Regions from separate parts of the Homo sapiens genome. Here region 2 is reported to be linked to region 1. Evidence: microRNA targets listed by miRTarBase, many of them from high-throughput screens and not tested one by one. Region 1 holds a microRNA gene; the other region holds the end of a gene's coding sequence.

The links. Region 1 holds the annotated microRNA hsa-miR-6721-5p (UGGGCAGGGGCUUAUUGUAGGAG, at 2,760-2,782, opposite strand). A microRNA usually pairs through its seed, bases 2 to 8, with sites in the 3' UTR of a target mRNA and lowers its output. Matches are read on the target gene's strand: a 7mer-m8 pairs with bases 2 to 8, a 7mer-A1 pairs with bases 2 to 7 and ends in A, and an 8mer does both.
Region 2: miRTarBase lists COX18 as a target of hsa-miR-6721-5p. Seed matches in the 3' UTR shown: 7mer-A1 at 1,972-1,978.

The regions. Positions count from the first base shown.
Region 1 is chr6:32,167,325-32,171,476 of GRCh38, forward strand. It overlaps MIR6721 (microRNA 6721), which reads right to left and starts at 2,792; the gene lies at 2,706-2,792. It overlaps EGFL8 (EGF like domain multiple 8), which reads left to right. Exons shown (of 9, transcript NM_030652.4): 7 at 26-105; 8 at 179-332; 9 at 586-957. The coding sequence ends at 632. AGPAT1 (1-acylglycerol-3-phosphate O-acyltransferase 1) reads right to left here. Exons shown (of 7, transcript NM_006411.4): 2 at 3,973-4,152; 3 at 3,613-3,746; 4 at 3,101-3,276; 5 at 2,841-2,936; 6 at 2,642-2,714; 7 at 888-2,124. The coding sequence ends at 1,952. PPT2-EGFL8 (PPT2-EGFL8 readthrough (NMD candidate)) reads left to right here. Exons shown (of 16, transcript NR_037861.1): 14 at 26-105; 15 at 179-332; 16 at 586-961. RefSeq lists enhancers at 1-466, 1,975-3,174.
Region 2 is chr4:73,054,869-73,058,868 of GRCh38, reverse strand. It overlaps COX18 (cytochrome c oxidase assembly factor COX18), which reads left to right. Exons shown (of 6, transcript NM_001297732.2): 6 at 582-4,000. The coding sequence ends at 755. Among named protein-coding and RNA genes, the nearest start is that of COX18, 13 kb to the left of the region's middle.

The DNA.
Region 1 (4,152 bases):
CACTCTTGGTCTCCTTTGTCCCTAGTTCGGGAGGCGGAAAAAGATGAGCGCGCTCTGAAGCAGGAGATTCACGAGCTGCGAGGGCGCCTGGAGCGGCTGGAGCAGGTGAGCCAAGCCTGCTGGGTGGGGCGAGGCCAGACGTCACTGTCAATACCCTGAGGCATCTCTTCCTTTCTAGTGGGCCGGTCAGGCTGGGGCCTGGGTCAGAGCGGTGCTGCCCGTGCCGCCTGAAGAGCTGCAGCCAGAACAGGTGGCTGAGCTGTGGGGCCGGGGTGACCGGATCGAATCTCTCAGCGACCAGGTGCTGCTGCTGGAGGAGAGGCTAGGTGCCTGTGAGTCCTCACACTCCTCCCGCCTTGACTTCTATTCCCCAACTTTCCCCAAGACCCCTCTCCATTCAGGCATTCCCTCTTTCCTCCAAGCCCCTCTCCAACATTCACTATCCTCATGCCTCTCCACTTTACCATCGTTCTCTTCTGAAATCCTGTCCCCAGCCCAACAGTTTCACTTATTGTTTGGTGAGAGTGGCAGTGTAGTCCACTCCAGGCTGACCACAGCCACTGTGTCTGCCATGTCATTAACCAGGCTCCTGTGAGGACAACAGCCTGGGCCTCGGCGTCAATCATCGATAAGAAGCCTCTACAGCACCCCTGCCCCCTAATTTATACAGAAACCGGACCCACTAATCCTCTGGGATTGGCCGACTGTGAGCTGCAGATAAGGCTATCAGCCACCAAAGAGCAATGAACAATGGAAACTTCAGAGAGCTGAAGAAAGGGGGAGGCCTGTGTTCTTGGCCTGCCCCTGAGTCTTCTGGCTGGGGGCAGGTTGCCTGGGCAAGAACTGCTTCTTCAATTCCTTAACAAATGCAACCACCAACACCCAGATCTCTCTCTCTCTTTATTTTCAGTTTTTTTGCTGTTATCCAGATAATTAATAAAAACCAACCACGCAAAACTGGGTCCCACCCTCTCCTTTTGCTCCCAGCCTACCTCCCCAGTTGTGGGAACAGGTCTGGAGTGAGAGGCAGGGAGTGGCTAATGCCACCAGGAAGAAATGAAAACTGGCTCAGAGAGGGGGAAGCCTCAACAGAAAAAGAAATAAATTAAAAGCCCTCCTATCCCCTCCAGCCAGGGTTCGTTCCTTTCCCCAACTCCCCAGGGGGCAGAAGTGAGTGCAGCACCTGATGTCTGCTTCTTCCCCTTGTGTCTGGTGAGATGGTGCAGCAGGGCTGCAGGGGGCTGGGTGGGGTCATGTCCACTGAAGAACTGTACTATGGGGACAGAAAACCAGAAATGTGGAGACTGAACTGGTATCCCAGAGAGTGCACGACCCTGGGCATCTGGGCAAGGGCAGGCATGAGACCTCTGAATTAGAAGGGTCCAGCCCCCACTGACAGGAGGCTACACTGGGAGGGAAGGTGAAGGTGCTGAGGAAAGCTCCCATGATGAGCCTGGGAGTGCTTCAGGTATCAGCTTCCAGCCAGAGGGCGAGAAGTCCTCCTCACAAATGGATGAGTCCATTGAATCCATGGACTTTGGAGTGGGGGGGATTTGTTCCAAAGAATGGATGAGTCCACTGGCCAATGTGGGGTAGAGGGGTAGAGAAGACCACATAGGAAGAGACTCCACTGGGGATGGAATGTTCCCCTCCCTTGTGTAGGCTGAGTCACTGGAGATGAGGGGGAGGCAACTGTCCCACAGACAAGACAGTAGGAGGTGGGGGTCAAGAGTGGAGACTGCACCGAGGCAAGAGTCCATGGATGGGGCCAAGAGGGGGCAGGAGTGGCGCTGTATCCACATTCACTTCAGAAGTTGAAGATTCCAAAGAGGAGAATAAGTGGGGAGAGGGGAGACAAGGAAGAGGGTTTGGCCCTGCTTCAGGGCCCACTGGGTGGGTAGGTGTGGGGAGGAAGATGGGGACAGATGGGAGGAGAGCTCAGAGCCAGGGTTCACCCACCGCCCCCAGGCTTCTTCAGATAGTCACCACCACCCCGGCCATCAGTGGAGATTTCCCGGAAAACAGTGAGCATGGAGTGCCGGACTCTGTCAGCCAGAGCTGGGACGTCATCTGGTGTCAGCCCTTCCGTGGGCACTGGGGGCAGCACCCGCACCTGACATTGTCCTGGGGCAAGGGGAGCACCATCATGGCCTGTCCACCCAGGTCTTTGCCCACAGGTGGGGCCCAGCTTCCGAGTGATACTCTTCCTCAACCTTTCAGTTCTCTTCCCCCAACCCTGGACAACCATCCCTGGGCTTGCCAGCTGCCACTTCTGAGGCCCTTCTCCTATACAAAGCCTTCTCCAATCCCCAGTTCAGACATCTCCTCAGCACCCCTCCAGCCCCCCTCCTCTGGGTTTGGCATTTACTGCTGAATGAGTGTTATTCATTACAGCTTTGTGCACACAGGCCTTATCTTTCCTGTTAAGATTAGTAACAGCCTCTCTTGGTGGGACCAAGTGCTACCCATCTGGCAGGGTATGGTGGGTGCTTAGTAAAGACTTATTGGCTGATGTGGGGTTAGACTAGATGACTGTGTAGACATCTCATGGCTCTGACACTGAATGATCCCCCTGCCTCACAGGGATGTCCTCCCAGCCTCTCCGGACACACCCTACCCCAGAACTGCTCAAAGCCCTCACCCGAGGTGAAGCGACGCTCCTTCTTGCAGTAGAAGTCTTGGTAGGAGGACATGACTATGGGGACAATGGGAACCTGGGGAAGGGTTAAAGCAGGTCAGTCCACAGCTCTCTTCAGAGACTCCTACAATAAGCCCCTGCCCAGAGATGAGGGAATGGTGGGGGTTGGCAGCTGAGTAGCAGAACGAAGAGCAGTAGTCACCTGGGCCTGCACTGCAAGATGGAAGGCGCCACGTTTGAAGGGCAGCATGGAGCCATTGTGGTTTCTCGTTCCCTCAGGAAACACCCAGACCCTCACCTGGGGGAGAAAGAGGGTCAAAGAAGACAAATACATATGGAGGAGTCAGAATAGGTGTGATGTTATAATGGGACCTTTGAGGCCCACTGGCCCTGCATATCAGTTTATTTACAACTGTTCTACTCTGTATCCCTCCAATCCCCCATTTCCCCAGGATGACTCACGTCCTGGGTGAGCAGGGTCTGGGCGACCTCAGACATGACACTGATGGCATCCCCCGTGCGCTTCCGGTCGATGAAGATGACTCCTGCCAGCCAGCAGGCCAGCCCGGCAGAGCCAGCCCACAGTAGCTCGCGCTTGGCAATGGGCACACAGCGGCCTGGCAGTACCTCCATCATCCCTTGGGCAGGGTGGGAGTGGGTGAGGATCGGGGTGGAGGCAGAGTGTCACAGAAGGCAACCCACCTCACCCAGCTCATCACCCTCTGGTAGGGACTGGAGGTGAAGGAGGAGACTAGGCAGGGAGGGGGGCCCCAAGTGAAGGAAAGGGTGACCAAAAGTATATGTAACCTGCTTATGAGGGCAGTTCTACCCAGGGAATGAAGGCCTGAGTGGGAGGCAAGGGGGCAATGTCCCAGAGGAAGGGGAATTGAGGATCTCTAGGAGAAGATATTCTAGGGAAGGTTTCAGGAGGGGAGGCATGGCTGGGGGAGGTGTGCCCTGTGGTGGGGTCTCACCAAGCAGATCGAGAGAGCTCTGGTGGTTGGAGACAACAACATAGGGCTGCGAGGGAGGGAAGTGGTGAGCCCCTCGCACCTCCACTCGGATCCCGTACAGGTATTTGATGTGGAGCAGCATTAGACGCAAGATCCTGTGGGGTCATGGCAAGGGGTCCCAGTGGGATCCATTGATGTCCATCTGCATGCCTCAGCTCCCCCCACCTTACTGTCTTTCTGACCACCTTTGCAGTCCTCTCCCCATTCCCTGTCTCTGGTCTCTCTCAGTCTTTTCTACACACACCATGCCCCCTTCCCCCAATCCACTACTCACTTTGTACCCTTAGGTTCCCTCATTGCCCAAGACCCCTTGCCCCTCACTTCATGTTCTCGACGTTGCGTCCTCGCACGGCACACACAGGGATGGCGAGCACAGCCAGGAAGAGGATCCAGCCATTGTAGAAGGCCATCTTGAAGAAGTACTTGGCACTGGGGCTGCAGAACCACAGGGTGGGCAGCAGGAAGAGCAGCAGCAGGAAGAGCAGCAGCAGCAGCATCCAT
Region 2 (4,000 bases), not on the chromosome of region 1:
AAATTGGCCCCTAGTGTCAAAAATGTTGGGGACCACTGCTCAAGATGGTAATACAAAAGAAATTTGGAGATAATGCTGAGGCTGTTTGTCTCAGAAGAAGGCAAAGAAAATGCATTCCTTACTACACTGAGAAACTGGCTGTTGGGAAACATTTGGAAGATAGATGACTGTATGGGGAAAATTAGGTGTAGGGAGGCTAAGTTTGCCATCATAAGTGCCACACTTCCAGCATTCTACCTTCAGTATGTAAGCAGTTGGACAGGACTTTTGGTGGGGAAAAAGTTATGTTCCATTGTCGAAGAAGGGAGATAAGATCTCTCTTGAGCCTCTGCCTAGGAGCTTCTCTCTTTTTACTTTCTACCCTAAATACTTCTCTTTTTCCTTTATTTTTGCTTTTTGGTCTGTCTGTAACCTTTTTTCCCTGTCTATTAAATCTATCCCAGGAATCTAGTAGCTGCTGCAAGTCTTGCTTAGTCTTGGCATACTTGTATTTACAAAGATTGTCATTTTATTTTTTATTGTCTGGACTGTGATGTCCTTGTAGAATTACAGATGCTAACATTTATGTCTTCTCTTTATAGTCAATTGTTCTCTACTGGTTATGCTCCAGCTTCGTGGGCCTTTCACAGAATTTGCTGCTGCGTTCTCCTGGATTTCGCCAACTTTGCCGAATACCATCGACCAAGTCAGATTCAGAAACTCCTTATAAAGACATATTTGCTGCCTTTAATACCAAGTTCATTTCAAGAAAATGACATATTTTCCAATAATTTTGAAACAGTTGCAGGAGTCACTATCATCTAAATGTATTTAGACTTAGAAATTCAGATGTTACTTGATTTCCTTTTATTTAAAATCATTAACTTCATGAAATATTGTAGGTTAAGATGTAATCCAGACCAGGCACAGTGGCTCATGCCTGTAATCCCAGCACTTTGGGAGGTCGAGGTGGGTGGATCACCTGAGGTCTGGAGTTTGAGACCAGCCTGGCCAACATGGTGAAACCCTGTCTGTACTAAAATAACAAAAAAATTAGCTGGGCTTAGTGGCAGGTGCCTGTAATCCCAGCTACTTGGGAGGCTGAGGCAGGAGAATCGCTTGAACCTGGAATACAGAGGTTTCAGTGAGCTGAGATCACCCCATTGCACTCCAGCCTGGACAACAAGAGTGAAACGCTATCAAAGAAAAAAAAAAGATGTAATCCAGATATATTTGACAGTAATTAAAATCTTTTAAATGTTATAAATGCAGTATGTTTGTGAAAGTATTAGAATAGAACCAAAGTGCCTGTCTCTGTTTATAAAGTTACAGTTTGTTAGAGCTACCAGAACTTTGGAGAATAGGGTTAGCTACTGAATGATGGCAAGTTAAACTAAACAATACTGCATATTACTGTTTTGTAAAATAAGAGGATCAGTGAGATGATTCATGTTTTTTTTTTTTGAGATGGAGTCTCACTGTGTCACCCAGGCTGGAGTGCAGTGGCGCAATCTCAGCTCACTGCAACCTCCATCTCCCGGATTCCAGTGATTTTCCTGCCTCAGCCTCCAAGTATCTGGGATTGCAGGTGCACACCACCACGCCCAGCTAATTTTTGTATTTTTAGTAGAGATGGGGTTTCACCATGTTGGACAGGCTGGTCTGGAACTGCTGACCTCAACTAATCCACCCTCCTTGGCCTCCCATAGTGCTGGGATTACAGGCATGAGCCACCTCACCCAGCATTTTTTTTTTTTAATTTTTTTAATGAGACAGAGTCTCTCTCTGTCACCTAGGCTGGAGTGCAGTGGCACGATCTCGGCTCACTGCAACCTCTGCCTCCCGTGTTCAAGCAATTCTCCTACCTCAGCCTACTGGGTAGCTGGGACTACAGGGGTGCACCACCATGCCCAGCTAAGTTTTGTATTTTTAGTAGAGATGGGATTTCACCATGTTGGCTAGGCTGGTCTTGAACTCCTGGCCTCAAGTGATCTGCCCACCTTGGCCTCCCAAAGTGCTGGGATTACAGGCGTGAGCCACTGTGCCCAGCTGAGATGTTTCTTATTATTTTGGAGGTGGAGAGGATTTTAGACCTCTTTGAGCATCTGAAAAAAGGCTATATATGTATGGTTTTCTCTTCAGAAAAATCTTAAGACTCACAATACGGGGACTTCCTTGTTACCAGGAAGATTTTCTGGCAATTCCTAGTTAATAAATCTTATTCTAATGGAACATACATTGATCTTGAGTTAATGCGTGGTTGAAAAAAAAAGCGGGGGCAACTTGAAATATATGCAGTAAAGTAGTCCATGCATACAAGTCCCTAACATGGTAGATGATGTTGCCTCCCGGCCCTGCTCAGAAAGAATACAAAAAGTGTACATTCCTTTTTCTATAATTTAAGAAGTCTGGAATACAGAGTGTAACACTGTGTACTGCTAGCACCCAAAGTGGAAAATCTTAAGCATTCAGATTGTTTAGTCAAAGAAGAAAACCAGAAGGGCAGTTGCCTATTGAGGTGATTTTAAACCTGTTTATTTGTAAGGATTAAGTACCCTAATAGGCTTAAACTATGATAGAGGTTTAATACAGAAAAAATTGACAGGTATTATAAATTGTGGATCCAGTTACTTGCTTATTTAATTTGTAAAGAGGTAAAATTAGCTCTGGTTGAGATATCAAGTATGGCAGGTATTTGAGAAGGCTATAAATCATAATTTTCATTTAGTTAAAATATGGACCTGATTCTGGGAAACCCTATCATTCCATCTCAATGTTTTACAATAAAATAAAAACTAAAGTGAAATTCATTAGTCATTTCTTTGATTGATGTCTCTTAAATTTTAGTTCACCTGCTTAATGAAGTTATGACATTTTTTAATAGAAAAAATGTACAGCATACAGAGGTAAGAATTCTGCTTCCCTGAGAATTTATTTTAGACATAGATGGTGGCAATTAAGACTAGGTTCTTTTTTCATACAAGTTCCTAGTCCTGGTTTCTGACTGTCCTATTGGGGCAATTGTGCTTTCCAACCACATTGAAGGAATTGAAATATCCTCATTATTTGTGGATTTTATATTTGTAAATTTGCCTCCTTGCTCAAATCTATCCATAACCCCAGAACCAGTACTTGCACAAGTGCTTTTGAGCCATTTGTAGGCAAAAATGTGAGTCACCTCCCAACAGAAGTGAAACAAATGGTACTCTGCCTTCTAGTTTCAGCTCTCATACCGTAAACATGTATCCTTTTTGAGTCTACTTAGTCCCATCTCTTCCTAATTTCTGTTCTTTTTGTTGGTGATTTTACTGTTTAAAATGGCCTCCAAATGCCCTGCTGGAGTGCTTTCTGATGTTCCTAAGCTCAGGAAGGCTTAGGAGAAAATAAGTATATTAGATAAGCTTCATTCATGCACAAGTTATAATGCTGTTGGCAGAGAGTTCAGTGTTACTGAATCAACAATATGTTGCATTGTTCTGTTGACAAAAACAAAGCTTGCAGAAACCTAACCCTGTATGTTTTCTAGGAGCAGTGATTTGGTATTCACTACTTCAGTGTTTGTGGACTTTATGGAACATAAGTACCACAAATAATGCAAATTGACTATATTTGCAGCGTGTACAATCAAGGATGCAGAGGCAGAAATGTGTGTGCAGCTTAGGTCATAGTAAAAAGAGGAAAGAATTTGAGGAAAATTTTGCCAGTTACATATTACCTCTGGAATAACTTTGCCTTTGCCGTGTGTGTTACTGTGTACACTCAGATATTTTTCTCATAATGGCCTTTGCCGTGTGTGTTACTGAGTGAGTACACTCAGATATTTTTCTCATAATGGCATGAGGGAAATCAGTCTCCTTTTCCCATTGTGTTTGTCACTTTTGCTGAGACGCAAAAAATAACGTGCTATGATATTGTGAAATATGTATTTGGTCTTTATCCCCAATCCCTGACATCCAGCGGAATCTGCAGAGTTAAGTGTCTTTTGTATGCTCATGTGATGACTGGTGGCTGGGGGCCCCTA